Regions from separate parts of the Homo sapiens genome. Here region 1 is linked to region 2. A link means that fine-mapping ties the variant in region 2 to the expression of a gene that starts in the linked region. Tissue or cell type: whole blood. Region 2 holds a variant in brackets; the other region holds the start of a gene. All regions are shown on one strand. Distances are between the middles of the regions. Region 1 holds the start of CLINT1 (clathrin interactor 1). Region 2 has its middle 33 kb from the start of CLINT1.

What was found.
Region 1: CLINT1 starts here. The variant in region 2 is fine-mapped to the expression of CLINT1 in whole blood (TOPMed, PIP above 0.99).

Annotation. Positions count from the first base shown.
Region 1 is chr5:157,854,957-157,865,489 of GRCh38, reverse strand. It overlaps CLINT1 (clathrin interactor 1), which reads left to right and starts at 6,345. Exons shown (of 12, transcript NM_014666.4): 1 at 6,345-6,560. The coding sequence starts at 6,520. RefSeq lists enhancers at 6,057-6,296, 6,134-6,715.
Region 2 is chr5:157,886,631-157,897,163 of GRCh38, reverse strand. No RefSeq gene overlaps it. Among named protein-coding and RNA genes, the nearest start is that of CLINT1, 33 kb to the right of the region's middle. The variant C/G (reference allele first, on the strand shown) is at 5,722.

The DNA.
Region 1 (10,533 bases), 32 kb after region 2:
GTTAGCCAGGATGGTCTCAATCTCCTGACCTCGTGATCCACCTGCCTTGGCCTTCCAAAGTGCTGGGATTACAGGTGTGAGCCACCGTGCCCGGCCTTAAATATTGTTTTTTCAAAGAAATTGTTTTTTTTGTTTTTGAGACAGGGTCTTACTTTGCCACCCAGGCTGGAGTGCAGTGGCGCAATCACAGCTCACTGCAGCCTCTACCTTCCCAGACTCAAGCAGTCCTCCTGCTCAGCCCTCCATTTAGCTGGGACTACAGGCATAAGTCCCCAGGCCCGGCTAATTTTTTTTTTTTAGCCATGTTGCCCAGGTTAGTCTTGAACTCTTGGGTTCAAGTGATCCACCCACCTCAATCTCTCAAAGTGCTGGGTTTACAGGTATGATCCCCACACCTGGTCTAGAGCACAATTCTATTTTTTTTTTTTTTTTTTTTTTTTGAGACAGTCTTGCTCTGTTGCCCAGTTGCCCAGGCTGGAGTGCAGTGGCGCGATCTCAGCTCACTGCAAGCTCCGCCTCCTGGGTTCATGCCATTCTCCTGCCTCGGCCTTATGGAGTAGCCGGGATTACACGCGCCCGCCAGCACGCCCGGCTAATTTCTTTTGTATTTTTTAGTAGAGACAGGGTTTCACCGTGTTAGCCAGGATGGTCTCGATCTCCTGACCTCGTGATCCGCCTGCCTCGGCCTCCCAAAGTGCTGGGATTACATGTGTGAGCCACCACGCCCGGGCCTAGAGCACAATTCTTTTGATGAACTGATAGAGTTCAGGTTCTGTTGGAGCTTCAGTGTGAACTCTGGACGCATAGGAGCTTTCTGACCTTGTCCAGAAGGACCCTGCCTCAAAAACCAGCCAGCCCATCCTTTCTGACATCCACCCCACTCACCCCTGACTCTGACTTGACCATGCAGGATAAATTCCCACAGTCACAAGTGGCCTCGTTGCTTCACTGATGACACTTTCCTGTGAGTGGCATTTTCAGAGGTCTAGACTCTAGGAACAGTACATCCACTCCAGGCTCGCCTGTTTCAGGAGAGAGAAGACAGAGCATCCCAGGAGGCAGGGAAATGATTCTAAGAGCATTTTTGCCTCTATCTCTCCTCCTGCTGGAGCATGCCCATTCTCACAGAAGGAATGCAAATATGTTAGCCCTTTAGAGCACCTATCAAGCTTTCTGAATAGGCCCACCTGAGAGCCCCACTGACAGCCCTGAAAGGGGACTGAATGTCAGCCAAGAAGAGCCCAACTGTCGGCAGAACAGGAAGGAAGGCATGCCCCGCCATCAGTCTACCTGCTGCAGAATGCCAGCAGCGCCACCGCAGCCTCAGCATCACAGCAGCCTCAGACCACTTAACTCCTTCCTTCTGCATTGCTTCCTTTTCTTTTATGCTGTTCCCTATTATAGTTTTTTCTTTTGTTCTTTCTCTCTTTCTTTCTTTTTTTTTTTTTTTTTGAGACAGAGTCTTACTCTGTTGCTTAGGCTGGAGTGCAATGGCACGATCTTGCCTCACTGCAACGTCTGCCTCCTGGGTTCAAGTGATTCTCTTGCCGCGGTCTCCCGAGTAGCTGGGACTACAGGCATGTGCCACCATGCCCTGCTAATTTTTATATTTTTAGTAGAGACAGGGTTTCACCATGTTGCTCAGGCTGGTCTCGAACTCCTGACCTCAGGCGATCTGCCCGCCTCAGCCTCCCAAAGTGCTGGGATTACAGGCATGAGGCACCGTGCCAGGCCTCCCCTATGATAGTCTTCTCTATTTTGTTCTTCCCAACCCAGCTACTTTTGTGGAATTCCAAGAGCTGAGAAGGACCTGTGTCATCTAGCCCAGGGCATCACAAACCCCAGCAAAATCACTTAGAATGTTTTTTCAAAGTACAATTCCCAGACCCCACCTTACATTTAACAGTTGTAAACAACTCTTGCTTTTGTCTGCCAGGGCATGATTCTCTTCAGAGTTCCTTCAGAGAAGTCTTTCTTCTTTCCCCACTCCATGTGGTTCTACTAGGGCTACAAATTCTGTAAGGCAGGCCTCTCTAGAGGTGATAGGACCCAAGATAGGCATATGGTCCAAACTGGGCCAATCAGAGTTATCTTTTGAGATGTCAGAGTCAGTGGATGAAAGACCAAAGTTCCTCTTCTCCCTTGGATGCCTAATAGAAAATGTGGTTACAGCTGGGTGCAGTGGCTCACGCCTGTAATCCCAGCACTTTGGGAGGCCGAGGCAGGTGGACCACCTGAGGTCAGGAGTTCAAGACCAGCCTGGCCAACATGGTGAAACCCTGTCTCCACTAAAAATACAAAAAAAAAACTGGCCAGGAGCAGTGGCTCACACCTGTAATCCCAGCACTTTGGGAGGCCGAGGCGGGTGGATCACCTGAGGTCAGGAGTTCAAGACCAGCCTGACCAACATGGTGAAACCCTGTCTTTACTAAAGATACAAAAAACTAGCTGGGCTTGGTGGCAGATGCCTGTAATCCCAGCTACTCGGGAGGCTGAGACAGGAGAATTGCTTGAACCCAGGAGGCGGAGGTTGCAGTGAGCCAAGATTGCACCACTTCACTCCAGCCTGGGTGACAGAGCGAGACTCCATCTCAAAAAAAAAAAAAAAGAAAGAAAGAAACCAATATTCTGACCTCTGGAGATGAACAGTCAGGTGTGATCAAAAACAAGACTCGTGAGTCCAAATACTGAAACCAAGGTGCAAATGTTCACCTGCTGTGTCAGTTTGAGTACTACAGGAAACAGAAGCCAAGATGGAATTAGAAGTATAAGATATATTAGGGGAAATGCCTATGAAGGAAAAAGGGAAGCGAGAGCAAGAGCAGGTGGTAAGGGTCTGAGACCACAAGGAAGTTCTGACACCTGTCAAGGAAGAGAAGGAAGGAAGGAAGATTGGGTAGGAAGAGTATCTGATTGCAGCAAGGCTTTGAGGAAATCTGGGCCAAGTCGATGGGAAGCCCAGGTCAATGATTGCCCGGTGAAGGAGTCCAGCACTGGGCAGAAATGGCCTGGCTCCAGCACACCTTTCTCAGTCATTGCTGGGAATAGCCCTACAGAGAGTATGCCGTTGGCATAAATGATCCCAGAGGAAGACAGCAGGAAGCTGTCAGTCAACCACACTCCTTGCAACTGGTTCTCTTGAAAGTAGGTCTGAATGGTGCTTTTCCATGGCTGCCATACCCATGTACCATGAATTAAACTCCCCCAAGGGAACTCTAGGGAGGTGACCGCATGAAATAAGCAGTCAGTGTCCATTGTCTACACTGCTTCTCACAACACACATCATTAACATAACTGAGTATATATGTATATATATATTTTTTTTGAGATGAGTTTCGTATGCGATCTCAGCTCACTGCAACCTCCACCTCCCGGGTTCAAGCGATTCTCCTGCCTCAGCCCCCCGAGTAACTGGGATTACAGGCATGCGCCACCACGCCCAGCTAATTTTGTATTTTTAGTAGAGACAGGGTTTCTTCATATTGGTCAGGCTGGTCTCGAACTCCCGACCTCCGGTGATCCACCCACCTTGGCCTCTCAAAGTGCTGGGATTACAGGCGTGAGCCACCACATCCGGCCTTTTTTTTTTTTTTTTCCTTCAAAACGTGTGTTGGTTTGGCCTTACTAAAAGTGTCAGCTCATTTAGTAAAAAATATATGTTTTCCTGAAGAAGAGTGGGTGGAGCATTTTCTCATTTATTTTTCTACCATGAACATATTTGAATTGCCACAAAGAAGTTACTATGGAAACTGCTCTCGAACTTGCAAGATAAAAGGTAAAAATGGAACACTTTGTTGAAATGCAAATAGTCTCTGGAGATCACTTTTTAACAAAGTCTCCGGGTCTGATTTTTCTGAGTCCTTTAAAGGCTCTCTTGAATTAGAAGCGGACAGGCAGATTTTTTGGCTTTACATTCCAGATGGCTCCAGCTGACTGTGCAAATGTCACAGGTGACAACTCTAGGATGGGTCTAGACGTATGCAAACTTGGTTTTGGAATGAGCAAAGAGGCTGACAGTGCCCTGCTGTGAACACCCAAACAGGCCCAGGGGAGGGAAGGTGGTTGTTTCTGGGCCAGGCCCGTTCTGCAGGTGTACTCTGGACTCACTTGTTTGAAAGTTAACTTGCTGAGCTCTTATTTATGCAAAGTAGTTTCTCTTTCTTATCTCCTCTGGCCACATTCCATCTCTGGGATCTTGAGCTGGATAGTCTTTTCAACAAAAAAACACAAACTTCTTATTTGAAAGCCCTATTCCTCTACCCATCTCTGCTCATCTTTACCTGCCTCTCCCCACCCACCTCTCCAACTCACTTCATATCAGCCCAAGTACTCCTACCATTACAAAGCTCTGAGATAACTTTGGATTTCTGCTTGTTGTAATTTTCTGCCTGTCAATTCCTTCAACCTTGCTTCTTTCTCTTGGGGCCTCAATCCGAAAGCCTTACTGAAACTTTTTTCAAAGCTGCTTTCGGTAATTAAGTGAATGCAACTTGGAGAGGGTTTCCTGTAGTCTCAGCTACTTGAGAGACTGAGGTGGGAGGATTGCTTGAGCCCAGGAGTTTCAGATCAGCTGGGGCAACAGAGTGAGACCTCCAGCTCAAAAAAAAAAAAAAAGAAAAAGAAAAAGAAAATAGAAAAGAGGTGGTTTCACTTGAGGGACCAGGGTCCGAGGTTGTTTATTTGGGATTATTGTTACCTAGCTTCATGACTAGCAACCATCAATTTCACTTCTTTGTGAATTGGAGTCTTTATTTGATCCTTTCGAGGGATCCTTCCATTTCAACCTCCTAAGTAGCTGGCCTCACAAGAGTGTGCCCCAACGCCTGGCTTTTTTTTTTTTTTTTTTTTTTTTTTTAAAGACTGGGCTGGCAGGGGGATCTCACTTTGCTGCCCAGGCTGGTCTCAAACTCCTGGGCTCAAGTGATCCTCCTGCCTTGGCCTCCCAGCCTCCCAAAATGCTGGGATAACAGGCGTGAGCCACTGTGCCTGGCCTGTAATGAACTATTGTAGAACCTAAGATTGGCCTTTTAAGACGTCTTTTCAGGCTTTTGCATTTCTGACAAACGGATGACCCCACCCAGACCAGCCACTCCTCTGCTGGCCCTCCATCAAGAAGCCGATTCAGCAAAGGAGAACCATTTTCCATACTCCTCTGATTGCATCCCTAACCAATCAGCAGCACCCATGCCCTAACCCTCTGCTCACCAAACTATCTTTGAAAAACTCTAGCTTCCAAATGTTCAGGAAGATTGATTTGAGTAATAACTCTGTCTCTCAAGTGGCATGGCCAGCCTCATGTCAAACTCTTCACTGCAATGACTTGGTCGCAGTGAATTGACTTTATCTGTAAAGTGGGCAGAAAGAACCCGCTAAGCAATTACACTATATGCAATTATCTTAAATGTTTCCTTGATTATTATATGTTTCTTCCAATTACGTTTGAATTCCAAGAGAGCTGGGTCTTTAACTATATTCCCCACTTCTGGAACATACAAGATGCTCAATAAATATTTGTAGAATGAAAAGAACTGTAAAATTTCAGCAGATGGATCAAATGAAACTTAAGGTTGCTTGTAGCTTTAACATGAGCATTGATAAAAATGAGTAAGTAGAGAAGGAAGTGATGACAACCATTGCAACAAAGCAATGGAAGCAATGTGCATATTTATCCTTAAAAAACACAAACCTGTCATATGTATGTGTATGTGTGCGTGTATATATAATGTTGGCTTTTTAGTTTCCCGTGGAGTGTGAACTGAGTTTCTGAGGTTTATAGTAAAGCATTTAACAAGGATTTCAGGTAGTTGTCTAAATATAAAACATTGTATCATAGAATTAGAGCGGAAAAGGATTTAGAATACAAGTTCTTCAATTTTACAGGGGTGGAAACTAAGGCCTAGAGATCTAAGTGTACTTGGGCATTGGGAAATAAATACAGCGATGTGTCTGTCGATGAGGAATGCGTATGCCAATCATACTTCTGTATAATCATTACTAATAACATAGTAATACTGCCTTACATTTGAAAAGTGTTTGAGTGTGACTAGACCCTGCACCAGTGGTTCTGAAACTTGAGCGTGATCAGAATCACCTAGAGGATTTGTAAAAGCACAGATCGCTGGGCCCCACCTCCAAAATTTCTGGCTCGGTAGGTCTGGGGCCGGGGACTGGGAAAGCTTAAGAGAAACCATCCCAACTCCTCTCAGCTCTCCCAACTCAACCTCTCAGCTCTCCCAACTCAACCGGCCGAGCTCGGCACTCAGGGAAAACTACAAGTCCCGGCGTGCCCCGCGCGCAGCGGCGGAAAGTCGGACACTTCCGCTCCACGCAGCGCCTGTGCTGCCGCGTCTCGACGTGTCACCGGCGGCGCCGCTGCTGTGGCAAAGGAAGGAGCTGACTGGGGGAGTTCGAGGCGGCGGGCGGCGGTGACCCCGGCCTGGAACTGCCCCGGTACGGAAGTGTTCCGGGGTCCGTGGGGAGCAGGAGAGGGAGGCGGCGGACCGTCCCGCGCGGGGCACGATGTTGAACATGTGGAAGGTGCGCGAGCTGGTGGACAAAGCGTGAGTATCGGGGGGCAGTTGTGGCCGAGGCCCACGTGGGGGAGGGGGGAGGGGGAGAAGGAGCTGGCCTTGGGCTAGGGGTTGCCCACGTCACGCCCCCTGGCTCTGCCAGCCCCATCATGGCGGCGGCCCGCTCCTTCCCGGCCCCGGGCCTCATCCCCGCTGGCGAGGCTGGGGAGGGACCCTCCCTCGTTTTAAAAAAAAACATCCTCTTGGCCACCCTTCTCTCCTTTCCAGGCCTTCCCGTCCCTTCCCCTATTCCAACCCCTGGGTGCCGACGCTTTGGTCATAAGGGGCGGGTTGTTTGGCGCTGGGTCACTGCCCTGGCCGGAGGACTGTCTTGGCCCCAGGCCGTGGGCTTTGCCTCCTGGGGAGCAGGGAAGGTTTGGGGGTGGGGGGCACAATGCACTGGTTCCCTGTGTCCCTCAAGGTGTAGTACGGAGAGACCTTAGACCTGGTTGGGGTGTGTCTTTTATCTTCCTTGCCTCCTCTTAATTCCTAATGAACCTGAAGTGTTGGAGTGGGTGGTAGTAGTGTAACAAGTGGCTATTGTGGTCAGCCTGAAGTTACTCAAGAAGACACTCATCCTTTGCTTTTCTAACACTAGTGAAAGTAGATCACTATATGACTTCTTGCGATTTTTTCTTCTGTTTCTTTTTCCACTACACATCATTTTTGGTGTGCTACTTGTTCCATTCGATTAAATTAAGAGGTCATTAAGAAATGTCCTCTTAAGGAAAAAAACAACCCAGGTTTATATCCTGTTGATCTGCTTTTAAAAGCAGGTAAAACGACCAGTACGTAGTTGATTTCCTTTAAGACTGAAATAACTTTAGTCTCTTACTTGCACAAGGAAAACCTTAACTTTTAAAATGAGTATATCAGGTATAACAGTGGTTAAGTAAGGTCTTCTAGGCCAGCAGGAAATAAAGTTTAAGAATTTAAGCAGTCCTCTTCCTTTGGGGCTTTAATGATTATGCAATAAGTGTGGTGAGAAAAACAGTTGATTTGTGCCACCCACCTAACCTAAAATCAGGAAGTATAGATAGCAAACTGTTTTCTTGACACCAGGAAACAAAGTAATTTCCAGTGCCTTGTCTGATACATCAGATAGAACTTAGAGCTTGACCATATTTTTATATTTTCTGTGCTACCAAGAAGGCAATAGAGTGCCTAAGGAGCACAGGTTTCAGAACCTGCAAAGCTGGGTTCAAGCTTTATAACCTTGGGGAAGTTACTTATCCTCACAGTGCCCTAGTTTTCTCTGGTACAAAATGAAAATGCAACGATACCTACCTTAGAATGTTGTTGTGAGGCTTAAGGGTTAAGGGATTGTATTGCATATAAAGCCCTTAACAGAATATGTTTATATTAGTGTACTTTTGAAACTAGCAAATGTTTTGCATTTAGAGTGAAATAAACCTCTTTAAGAAAGAAGCTTCAAGTTTGAAAAGTGATTTGCTTTAATAATTTTCCTTTATAACAACTCATTTGGCTATTAAGGCTTCAGCTATTTATTTCGGACTATTTAGCTATTTATATATTCTTTGCTTTTGCTTACCGAAGATGAAATAAACTAGATCTTTTCCAGATCTAGGTTCATTGGCATTTTTTTAGTATATTGTGTAAAGATTAGGATATCAACTTAAATAGTTTTTTAAAGGCCAAAAGAAGACTAAAAGCTACCTTTTTTTTTTTTTTTTTTGATGGGGTCTCATTCTTTTGTGTGTTCATAACTCACTGCACCCTCCAACTCCTGGGCTCAAGTGATCCTCCCACCTCAGCCTCCCAAGTGGCCAGGACTACAGGCATGCATCACCGTGCCTGGCACTGCCTCCTTATTTCTCAGTCAGAGGTCAGAAGAATAAAACCATTAAGAAACACCTTGTTCTCTTAGAGGACCAAATTTGTGGTACTCAAAAATTTGAAGAGGCTGTACATTGTTCGTAAGACAGAAATCGAGGCAATATTCCTACTATTGTTGTACCTTTCATATTTGCTTATCACACTTGTTACTAATCTTCACGTGCTTTAGGTTAAATTTGCCATGTAAGTAGTTATCTAAAGGAAAAGCTATTGTTGAAAAATATTATCTATCTTTTTACTACCCAATTTAGGATGTAGACTTGAACCAAATTATTCAAGAACATAGAAGAATGTTGTCACCAAAGACTTTTTAAGGCTTTTGTGGGTGTCTGACACATATTAAGATTAGAACATGAGGTTGATTTACTGATGAGTACTCGGGATTTTAATTTTCATCTTTTCACTGGCAAGAAGAGAAGAAATTCTTCCCCCCAAATGTAAGCATCTTACAGAACCGTGGATCTGTTAGACTGTGCACCTTATAATGCCATAATAGACGTGCATCCATAGAATGGTTGGTCTGATTATCAGAGGTATAAAATGATGAAGGAACTTGCAAATGAAGAAGCAGTGACGTGATTAAGGGCTATTCAGATAGATGGATCAATAGAATGAGGGCTTCTATGAGAGAAAGGTTAGGGGTTTAACTATCTGGTTCATATTCTGGCATTACGTTTTTAATTAGCTGTATGTATGATTTGAGGCAGAATCACATGAATCTCCAGACTTTGCCTTCCTTATCTGTAAAATGAGGGGACCTGGCTAGAGTAAGACTTTTTCCACCTTTGATGGCTATTGGAGAAATGCATTTCCATCAAGGAAAAATAGTTGGAACTAGTTTTTACAATAGCAGACAAATTTTGGAGCCATTATCCTCTGTAGACAATTTAGGCTGAAAAGGGAAATTTTCTTAAAAAGTGGTAATCAATAAATGTTATACTTAAATATTTTATGCAATAAATAAGACCATGACTCAGGAAGACTAGGACTTTTAGTGTATATTGATACCCAGTGAGGTTTTACTTCAGAAAAAGAAATGTACTCTGAAAAATGTGTTTCCTGGAGCCACTCTTAGATTCAGTATGGTAGCGGCTCTTAAGTGTAATGATGTATTTCTTTTTTTTTTTTGAGATGGGGTTTCGCTCTTGTTCCCGGGGCTGAAGTGCAGTGGCGAGATCTCAGCTCACTGCAGCTTACACTTCTGGGGTTCAAGCGAGTCTCCTGCCTCAGCCTCCCTAGTAGCTGGAATTACAGGTGCCTGCCACCACACCCAGCTAATCTGTGTATTTTTAGTAGACACGGGGTTTCGCCATGTTGGCCAGGCTGGTCTTGAACTCCTGACCTCAGGTGATCCACCCATCTCAGCTACTCAAAGTGATAATGATGTATTTCAAACACTGGCTTTTGAGACCTTGAAGACTTTTTCTGGAAGTGGGGGTATATTTTCCACAATCGCTGCACCTCCTGGTGGCAGTAGAGGGATTTGTTTTGCAGAACATTGTGGAACTGAGGGAAGCAGATAAAGCCATAGGCCTGCCAGAGCTTGGAATGCCAGTATCTTCCCACTCGTCAAGTTGCATAAAAGGCGATGTGGCAGGAAAGGATAAGTGGCACCATTCCCACCAACTAGGAGCACTAGCTTAATCATTGTCATCCTATGACCTATCTTTACTTGTGGCTGTAATAAAATTGGACATGTTTATATTTTGTCATCCTATACATGGTAAAATTGAAAGTTGCTGCAGTTCTATTTTCTCTCTAGATTTGAGGAATGTAATGAAGGTGACATGGTAGTGGTAGATCAAAACTGCTACTTATTTGTTCAAGCTCAGCGAATCCTTCTCTTTCCTTGCAAGGAGTAATATTAGTGGTAAATCTCTTTCATCAGTGACCCGCCCCCCCCCCCGCCTTTTTTTTTTTTCGGAGACAGTTCACTTTATCCCCCAGGCTGAAGTGCAATGGCGTGATTTCAGCCCACTGCAATCTCTACCTCCCGGGTTCAAATGATTCTCCTGCCTCAGCCTCCCGAGTAGCTGGGATTACAGGCGTCTACCTCCATGCCTGGCTAATTTTTGTATTTTTCATACAGCTGAGGTTTTGCTGTGTT
Region 2 (10,533 bases):
ACCAACTCATTATTCTGAATACCTGTAAATAAAGAGACAGAATCAAGTATTTATCCTTGTTCTCAGAATTTCTAAATAATTGATGAGTGAAAAAAGTCATCTTTAGAAAAGAATTCCAGCTAAAAGGAATGAAAAGGAATGATAGAATTAGAGCATGACCAGCCGGGCATAATGGCTGAGCCTGTAGTCCCAGCAATTTGGGAGGCTGAGGCAGGCCAATCACTTGAGCCCGGGAGTTTGAGACCTGCCTGGCCAACATGGCAAAACCTCATCTCTATTAAAAATACAAAAAATTAGCCAGGCACCGTGGCATGTGCCTGTAGTTCCAGCTACCCTAGAGGCTGAGGTGGGAGAATCACTTAAGCCCAGAAGGCGGAGGTTGCAGTAAGCTGAGATCACGCCACTGCACTCCAGCCTGGGTGACAGAGTGAGACCCTGTCTCAAAAAATGTAAATAATAATAATAATAGCATTAGAACCTGACTACTTTTGCAAACTCCAAATGAGATAATGGATCTAGGACACAATGATCAATGGCAGCCAATATTACCATAGAAAGAGACATCCCACACTGTGTGCCTCCTAATGGACATTCCCATCACCACCTGTACTAGTTTCTAGGGCTGCTGTAACACAGTGCCACAGACTAGGTGGCTTAAACAACAGAAATTCATTTTCTCCAGTTCTGGAGGCTAAAAGTCCAAGATCAAGGCATCGCCAGGGTGGATTTCTTCTGAGGCCTCTGCCCTTGGCTTACAGACGGTCATCTTCTCCCTGTGTCTTCATGTGGCCTTCCCTTTGTAACTGTCTGTGGCCAGATTTCCTCTTCTGAAAAGGACACCAGTCATATGGGAGTAGGGCCTATCCTAATGACTACATTTTAATCAAATTACCTCTTAAAAAACCTCATCTTCAAATACAGTCACAGTCCAAGGTACTGGGGATAGAACCTCAACATATGAATTTTGCAGGGGTACAATTCAGCCCATAACACCACCCACAAAATAGTCTTGTCAAAAACTAGAATGTGAGGCCAGGTGCGGTGGATCATGCCTGTAATCCCAGCACTTTGGGAGGCTGAGGTGTGCGGATCATGAGGTCAGGAGTTCGAGACCAGCCTGGCCAACATGGTGAAACCCTGTCTCTACTAAAAATACAAAAATTAGCCAGGCATAATGGCGGGCGCTGGTATTCCAGCTGCTCGGGAGACTGAGGTGGGAGAATCACTTGAACTAGGGAGGTGGAGGTTGCAGTGAGCCAAGATTGTGCCACAGCACTCTAGCCTGGGTAACAGAATGAGACTCCGTCAAAACAAACAAACAAATAAACAAAACCAAGAGTGTGAATCAAATCAAGTATTCAGAACTAAATACCAGTTTACAGAGAATATAGAGGGGAGAAAAACATGTTAAACACCACAAAGGGAATGCAATCAGCAAAATTCAGAATTTGGAAAACTCTTGCTGACAATTGACCTTTTTCCATAAAAAGCAAATTGCAAGGACAAAAAAAAAAGGGCCAGGTATGGTGGCTCACACCTGTAATCCCAGCACTTTGGGAGGCCGAGGCGGGTGGATCACTTGAGGCCAGGAATTCGACACCAGCCTGGCCAACATGAAACCCTGTCTCTACTAAAAATACAAAAATTAGCTGGACTTGGTCATGCATGCCTGTAATCCCAGCTACTCTGGAGGCTGAGACAAAAGAATCGCTTGAACCCTGGAGGTGGAGGTTGCAGTGAGCCAAGATGGCACCACTGCACTCCAGCCTAGGTGATGAGGTGAAACTAACAACAACCACAAAAAAAGAAAGAAAAAAGAAAAGAAAAGAAAAGAGAGATCGGAGGGTGCCTGTAGATTGCCAGAGACTTAAGAACTATATAAACCAAATGCTAGATGTGGGCCTTGTATGAATCCCAATTAAAACAAATACCTTTTTTTTTTTTTGACAGAGTTTCACACTTGTTGCCCAGGCTGGAGTACAATGGCGTGATCTCAGCTCACCACAACCTCCTCCTCCCAGGTTCAAGCGATTCTCCTGCCTCAGCCTCCCAAATAGCTGGGATTACAGGCATGTGCCACTACGCCCAGCTAAGTGTTTTTTCTTTTCTTTTCTTTTCTTTTTTTTGAGACAGAGTTTTGCTCTTGTTGCCCAGGCTGGAGTGCAATGGTGCGATCTCGGCTCACTGCAACCTCCGCCTCCCGGGTTCAAGCGATTCTCCTGCCTCAGCCTCCCAAGTAGCTGGGATTACAGGCATGCGCCACCACGCCTGGATAATTCTTTTTTTGTATTTTTAGTAGAGATGGGGTTTCTGCATATTGGTCAGGCTGGTCTCAAACTCCCGACCTCAGGTGATCCGCCTGCCTCGGCCTCCCAAAGTGCTAGGATTACAGGCGTGAGCAACCGCGCCCGGCAAAACAAATACTTTTTAAAAAGATACACTATGAGGCAATTGGGAAATCTGAGCATTAACTGATTCTGGATTGTTTTACAATACTAAGGAATTATTGATATTTTTAGATTGATAATGGCATTGCAGTTATGTTTTTTAAACCAGTCGTCATCTTTTAGAGATATATATTGATACATTTACGTGGATGATTCGATGTCAGGAATATATTTCAAACTAATCCAGTAGGGAAGGAGACAGAGGGAGTATAGGTGAAATAAAAGCAGCAATGAGTTAGTGGTTGTGTCAGGGTGATGGGTACCTCGGGGTCTGTTATACCATTCTCTCTACTTTTATGTTTATGTAAAGTTTTCCATAATAAAATGTTTATAAATGAATTAATGAATAAATGAACAGACAGATAGATGGGTGATTATGTCATGCATCCCTTTGGGCAAAGGCAAAACCACTGAGATGAAAATAGGGAAGACTAATGTACTAAAGGAGCAAAATTAGAAATAAAGCATGGCTAACAAGTAATAGAAGTTACCCTTTGTAGAGAACCAGCGAGGTTCCAGGGCGGGCCCTAGGCAACATTATCCGTCTATATTTATAGTTAAAAATCTCTATTGCATTTCATTTTTATAACATTCCTGGAGCAGGGGAAAAATGGGTCATCCACATTTTACATATAGGGAATCTAAGACTCAGATGCCTAAAACCACAAGCTGGTGAGGACCTGAGATAGACCAGCACCCAGGATTTTGGTCTATAACGTGTATGTCCTTTCCCTTACCCCTTTCTGCATCTAGAGCCCAAAAAAGAATGAAATAGCGGCAGATCCTTGAGTCAAGAGGGAGCCTCAATCTGGAAAAAACCCTTTAGTTTTCTTTGTTTGTTTTAGGAGCTTACTTTGCCTTGTCTTCTATTAGTGCTTGATTTATTTATTTATTTATTTATTCATTTATTTATTTATTTATTTGAGGCAGGGGTCTCATTCTATCACCCAGGTTGGAGTGGAGTAGTCTGATCTCCACTCACTGCAACCTCTGCCTGCCAGGCTCAAGCGATCCTCCCACCTCAGCCTCCCAACTAGTAGCTGGGTCCACAGGTGTGAGCCTTTCGGCTCACTGCAAACTCCACCTCCCAGATTCAAGTGATTCTCGTGCCTCAGCCTCCCGAATAGCTGGGATAACAGGCATGCACCACTGCAACTGGCTAATCTTTTGGGGTATATTTTGTAGAGACCGGGTTTCGCCACGTTGCCCAGGCTCGTCTTGAACTCCTGAGTTCAAGCTATCTGCCCTCCTCAACCTCCCAAAGTCCTGGGATTACAGGTGTGAGCCTCGGCCGGTGCTCTTTATTTTTGAAAGACAAAAAACAAAAACAAAAAACAAACAAAAAACCCCATTTAAGAATGGCCCTCATCCAACAGAAGTGCTTATAGTCACATTTATTCTGCAAGTTTGTTTTTATAGCAATGAATACCAAAGCTTCTCTATCCTCACGATGACAAATTTTGAGTTATGACACTGACGTGAAAATGTGAAGGAAGCACAGAGCGGGAAAATATGTGTGCATCCTTATCTTCCGCTGTGAGTTTCTAGATGCTTCTCTACATAAAATGAAACTACTCAGACATGATTCACATGCACATGGTATCTCAAATAGAATATCAATCATTTTCATTTGGAGAGTATGCTTTGGTTTTGTTTTTCATTTTCACTATGCTCTTTTTAATAATACAGGGAAGTAGCTCCATTTTAGAAAGATTTCCATCAAAACAGATAAAAATGAAAGGTTCAGCCCAGGAAACTCAAGCTCAGCTCTCCTGCAATATTCTACAACCAGGCATTACTCAAACTACTAGAATGTCAGCATTTCTAACCCTCCAGATTTTTATCTTCCTCATGAATATTAGGAAAAGAGTTTGCCCCTTCCAGAATCATCTTGACACTGCCCCTTCAAGCTGCTTATTCTCTGGCCACTCCTCCCTCTGCAAAGGTGGTGTGGACGGGTCTGAGGAGCAGGGCCTCTGATTTCCCTTTATCAATCTGTGTGGAGGGGTACAAAAGAGTTCGGCCAGAAGCAGTGGCTCACTCCTATAATCCCAGCACTTTGGGAGGTCGAGGTGGGTGGCATGCACATGTAGTCCCAGCCACTCAGGAGGCTGAGGTGGGAGGATCCCTTAAGCCCAGGAGTTCTAGGCTGTGGTGAGCTGTGACTGCACCCCTGAAATCCAGCCTGGGCAACAGAGTGAGACCCTGTCTCAGAAAAAAAAAAAAAAAAAAAAAAAAAGATCTGGCATCTCATTCATGAAAAGACTAAAAAGTTCCCTTTAAAGTTATTTCCAAATTGGGTGCAGTGGCTCACGCCTGTAATCCCAACACTTTGGGAGGCCGAGAAGGCAAATCACTTGAGGTCAGGAGTTCAAGACCAGCCTGGCTAATATGATGAAACCCCGTCTCTACTAAAAATATGAAAATTAGCTGGGCATGGTGGCGCACACCTGTAACCCCAGCTACTCCGGAGGCTGAGGCAGGAGAATTGCTTGAACTCAGGAGGTGGAGGTTGCAGTGAGCCAAGATTGCGCCACTGTACTCCAGCCTGGGTGACAGAGTGAGACTCTATCTCAAAAATAATAATAATAATAATAAATTAAAAATAAATAAATGAATAAAAAATAAAGTTATTTCCAAAAGAGGTTATATACAAAGATAGAAAGGCTGACAGAACTGGAAGATGTTGATGTTTAGCTTTAAGGTTGTATCTAATCCCTGAGCTACAGTGTTCAGAGTAAGCAATTTGTACACTGTGTAAATACCCTGCAAATAGCACAGTTTTATTTATTCCTTGTATCTTTTTGTGTTGCAAAGTATTAATTTGCTATATGTAATTTTTTTTTTTTTTTTTTTGAGACAGAGTCTTGCTCTGTCACCAGGCTGGAGTGCAGTGGCGTGATCTCGGCTCACTACAACCTCTGCCTCCCGGATTCAAGCAATTCTCCTGCCTCAGCCTCCTGAGTAGCTGGGACTACAGGCACGCGCCACCATGCCCAGATAATTTTTGTATTTTTAGTAGAGACGGGGTTTCACCATGTTGGCCAGGGTGGTCTCAATCTCTTGACCTTGTGATCCGCCCACCTCGGCCTTCCAAAGTGCTGCGATAACAGGCGTGAGCCACTGAGCCTGGCCTATGTAAATGTTTTTAAAGCATACCACAATATTTTGAAGTCTTATTTTGTAATTTCCTTATTTTTTCTTATAAGTAGCCTCAAAAAATGGAAGTGGCCCTGGCTTCTCTCAATATCTGAAAGGCCTTGAGGAAGATACC[C/G]GAAGATAGCTCAATATCTGAAAGACCTTCCTGAAGAGGAAGAAGAGGGGAAGGTGTTGTGGTTAACAGCTGCAACAACAGTTAGCACACACTGAGCACTTTTCTGTGCCAGGCACTGGTGAGTGTTCTAACTTAACTCACATTTATTAGCACATTTAACATGCAGTAATTCATTAAATCCTCAAGACAACCCTGTTTAGGCAGGAGAATAGGGTCTGGAGGCAGGGAACCTAAGGCCCATTTGAGCTGACTTCCTAGAACTGAATCAAAAGGAAAACTCCACCTTTCTAGTCTCAAGTAACAAAAGGATCAAAGGCTACTCCTTTTGCACTGCCTTGCAGATGAAAAATTGAAAGTACCTCTGACTGGTCCCCTCCTGCAACCAATCAGACTATCAGACTGGTTGCAGGCCTAGTCTTCATTTGCGTAGGGGTGTAACTTTGTAACTTCAATTCAGCTTCTGATTGGTCACCTTCCACAAACAATCAGACTGCTCACAGGCCAGTACTTCATTTACATTGGTGTAAACCAAGTAACCAGTGGGAAACCTCTAGAGGGTATTTAAACCCCAGAAAATTCTGTAACCAGTGCTCTTGAGCTGCTTGCTTATTCCCACTCAGTGGAGTGTACTTTCATTTCAATAAATCTGTGTTTCCATTGCTTCATTCTTTCATTGTTTTGTTTGTGCATTTTGTTCAATTCTTTGTTCAAAACGCCAAGAACCTGGATGACAACTTGTAGTCAAGACCCTCCACTGTTAACACTATGAAGAAGGTATTATCTCCAATTTACAGATAAGGAAACTGGAAACTGAGGCACAGCTAGTAAGTAGCTGTGTATCACATTTTACTGAGAGGTTGTTGGAGGAAGCTAAGGGGAATTGCAGACTATGGGGAAATACTTTAAAACTATATAGAAAGTATAACTTTACAGGGAAAGCACCTGAAAGTTTAAACCTTTCATAAGGGGAGTTTCCTTTTGGGAGCCCTAAGATCTTAACCTTATTTCTTGATCGTCATATTCTTTTATTTATTTATTTATTTATTTATTTATTTTATTTTATTTTATTTTATTTATTTTTTTTTTTTGAGACGGAGTTTCACTCTTGTTGCCTAGGCTGAAGTGCAATGGCGTGATCGCGGCTCACTGCAACCTCCGCCTCCCAGGTTCAAGTGATTCTCCTGCCTCAGCCTCCTGAGTAGCTGGGATTAGAGGCATGCACCACCCACGCCCAGCTAATTTTATATTTTTAGTAGAGACAGGGTTTCTTCATGTTGGTCAGGCTAGTCTCGAACTCCCGACCTCAAGTGATTCACCCGCCTTGGCCTCCAGAAGTGCTGAGATTGCAGGCATGATCCACTGCACCCAGCAATCCTCATATTCTTATATGAGAGCACTGCCTTCCTCTCTGCAAAATTCCACCCTTCTTCACAAGGGATTTTCTTGCCCCATGCCAGCCCTCTTCCTCCACCAGGTGAAATGTGTTCCCCACAGGGGAAAAATATCCAAGTGTGAGTTAGTCTAGAATAACACTGAGAAAATTGGCAGGGGGAATTGTTGGTACTCCAGGTGTCTGGTCCTCTTTGGTGTCTCTCTAACATGGTAGGTGACAGTTAAAGATCTTTATTCTATCATGGCCTGTCAATACTTGTTGAGTCATATTTGCATCTCCCAAATATTAACATTAATTGTCAGAGGCAGTTTCGTCTTAACCAACCCACAAGGATGTCAAGAAAGGTCTTTAAATACTTCATAATTTGCCAACGTATCTTCTTCAACAATGGAGTAGGTGCTATGGACTACTATGGTTAGTTTATTTGATTCACTGTCCTCTTCCCCTCAAATTAGGATTCCCTTGGGCAGACCATCTTCCTCCCCATGACTGCCTGGGACAGGAGGAGAGGTGGTCTTCCAGCTCCACCACAATGTGAATAAGGTCATCTGAGATTTTGGGTTTTTTTAACATACTTCCTCTACACTGTAACTGACCAATAAAAGAAAGACTATGGTTAATATTCTTCCTGGTCACATTCTATCCCAGCACCAAAACTATTTATAGAGAATTCCCTGAGGGCCTGGTTGTTATTAAACCCTGTATAAATACTTTCTTTGAGCCAAGTATCAGGCTCTGGTCCTTACCCAGGTAAGAGGTGAAAAATCTCATGTTAATGTTTTATTGTGGTAAACATTACCTGGGGCTAGCCCCAATGGAAGGAATCAATCCGGCATTATAAACAATTCAAAGGCAATTTTTAGAATGAAAGCAAGCAATTCTCTATGAATCCTTTACAATGCCCAGAATAACAAGTTAAGTGTTCCAAACCACTTTTACACCTACTACATTGCTTCAATCTCACAATAACCCAGAAAGGTCATTAGACTTCACATCATTACCTACATTAAATAGACCAGGAAATTGAGACTGGGAGAGTTTCAGTGATTACACAAGGTTACCCAGCTAATTAATCACACAGCAAAGCTTGCTTTTGACATCCTAGTCCAACTCTTGCCAAAGCATTGATGTTTGCCTTCTTTATATCTATAAAGCATTTTACAATTATTCCCTCTAATGCATAGTTCCATTGACAACTTTTTAAATTCCTTTAATCCCCACAACCACCCTATGGGCAAGTTTTCGGTTTTTTTTTGTTTTTTTTTTTTTGAGAGGGAGTCTCACGCTTGTTGCCCAGGCTGGAGTGCAATGGCACGATCTCGGCTCACTGCAACCTCTGCCTCCCGGGTTCAAGCGATTCTCCTGTCTCAGCCTCCCAAGTAGCTGAGATTACAGGTGCATGCCACCATGCCCGGCTAATTTTAGTATTTTTAGTAGAGATGGGTTTTATCAGATTGGTCAGGCTGGTCTTGAACTCCTGACCTCAGGTGATCCTCCCACCTCGGCCTCCCAAAGTGCTGGGATTACAGGTGTGAGCCACTGTGCCCAGCCAAGTATTCTTATTATCCCCATGTTATAAATTAGGAAAGTTTACAAAGTTATTTACCCACACACCCTTATCTAATCACACTTGGAGTGCCCTTCTGGCCCCTTAGGGTGTTCATTGTTGTGTTAATCAAGATCACAAATTTGAGATCCTGGAATGATCTCTGAAACAGACGTGCTCAAAGGGAAAGGAGCAAAGGTTCTTGATATAAACCAGGAGCCAGTAAAAATTCTGATCATTATTAACATTAGGAATAACTCCTGAGAGTTATCATCAATTAATTTTTAACCAAGTACCAAAATAATTCATTGGAAAAAGAATAGTCTATTCAACAAATGGTGCAGGAACAACTGGTTACCTACATGCAAAAGAATGGAGTTGGGTCCCTACTTCATAGCATATACAAATATTAGTTCAAAATGGATCAAAGAACTGAATGTAAGAACTAAAACTACAAAACTCTTAAAAGAAAAGTAGGGCTGGGTGCAGAGGTTCACGCCTATAATCCTAGTGTGTCCAGAATTGGTGGGTTCTTGGTTTCACTGACTTCGAGAATGAAGCTGCGGGCTCTCACGGTGAGTGTTACAGCTCTTAAGGCAGCACGTCTAGAGTTGTTCGTTCCTCCCGTCCAGAGTTGTTCATTCCTCCCAGTGGGTTCATGGTCTCGCTGGCTTCAGGAGTGAAGCTGTAGACCTTCGTGGTGAGTGTTACAGCTCACAAAGGCAGCACAAACCCAAAAACTGAGCAGCAGCAAGATTTATTGCAAAGAGTGAAAGAACAAAGCTTCCACAGTGTGGAAGGGGACCCTGGCAGGTTGCCACTGCTGGCTTAGGCAGCCTGCTTTTATTCCCTTATCTGGCCCCACCCACATCCTGCTGATTGGTCCATTTTACAGAGAGCTGATTGGTCTGTTTTACAGAGAGCTGATAGGTCAGTTTTACAGAGAGCTGATTGGTCCATTTTGACAGGGTGCTGATTGGTGCATTTACAATCCCTGAGCTAGACACAGAGTGCTGATTGGTGCATTTACAATCCTCTAGCTAGACATAAAAGTTCTCCAAGTCCCCAGTAGATTAGCTAGACATAGAGCACTGATTGGTGCATTTACAAACCTTGAGCTAGACACAGAGTGCTGACTGGTGCATTTACAATTCTCCAGCTAGACATAAATGTTCTCCAAGACCCCACCCAACTCAGGAGCCCAGCTGGCTTCACCTAGTGGATCCCGCGCTGGGGCCACGGGTGGAGCTGCCTGCCAGTCCCGTGCCATGCACCTGCATTCCTCAGCCCTTGGGTTGTCGATGGTACCAGGCGCCATGGAGCAGGGGGCAGTGCCCATCAGGGAGGCTCGGGCCGCACAGGAGCCCACCACAGTGGGGCTCGGGCATGGCGGGCTGCAGGTCCCAAGCCCTGCCCCACGGGGAGGCGGCTGAGGCCCAGCAAGAATTCGAGTGTGGCACAGGTGGGCCGGCAGTGCTGGGGGAACCCGGTGCCCCCTCCGCAGCTGCTGGCCTGGGTGCTAAGCCCCTCACTGCCCAGGGCTGGCTGACCGCTCTGAGTACGGGGCCTGCCAAGCCCACACCCACCTGGAACTTTCACTGGCCCGCAAGCACCACGCGCAGCCCCAGTTCCCGCCCGCGCCTCTCCCTCCACACCTTCCCGCAAGCAGAGGGGGCCGGCTCCAGCCTCGGCCAGCCCAGAGAGGGGCTCCCACAGTGCAGTGGTGGGCTGAAGGGCTCCTCGAGCATGGCTGCCAAGGCCGAGGAGGTGCTGAGAGTGAGTGAGGGCTGCTAACACGTTGTCACCTCTCAATCCCCCCCTGTAAACAGGACAACCCAACTGCTGTTGGGAATTTGGCCAATGACCGCTCTAG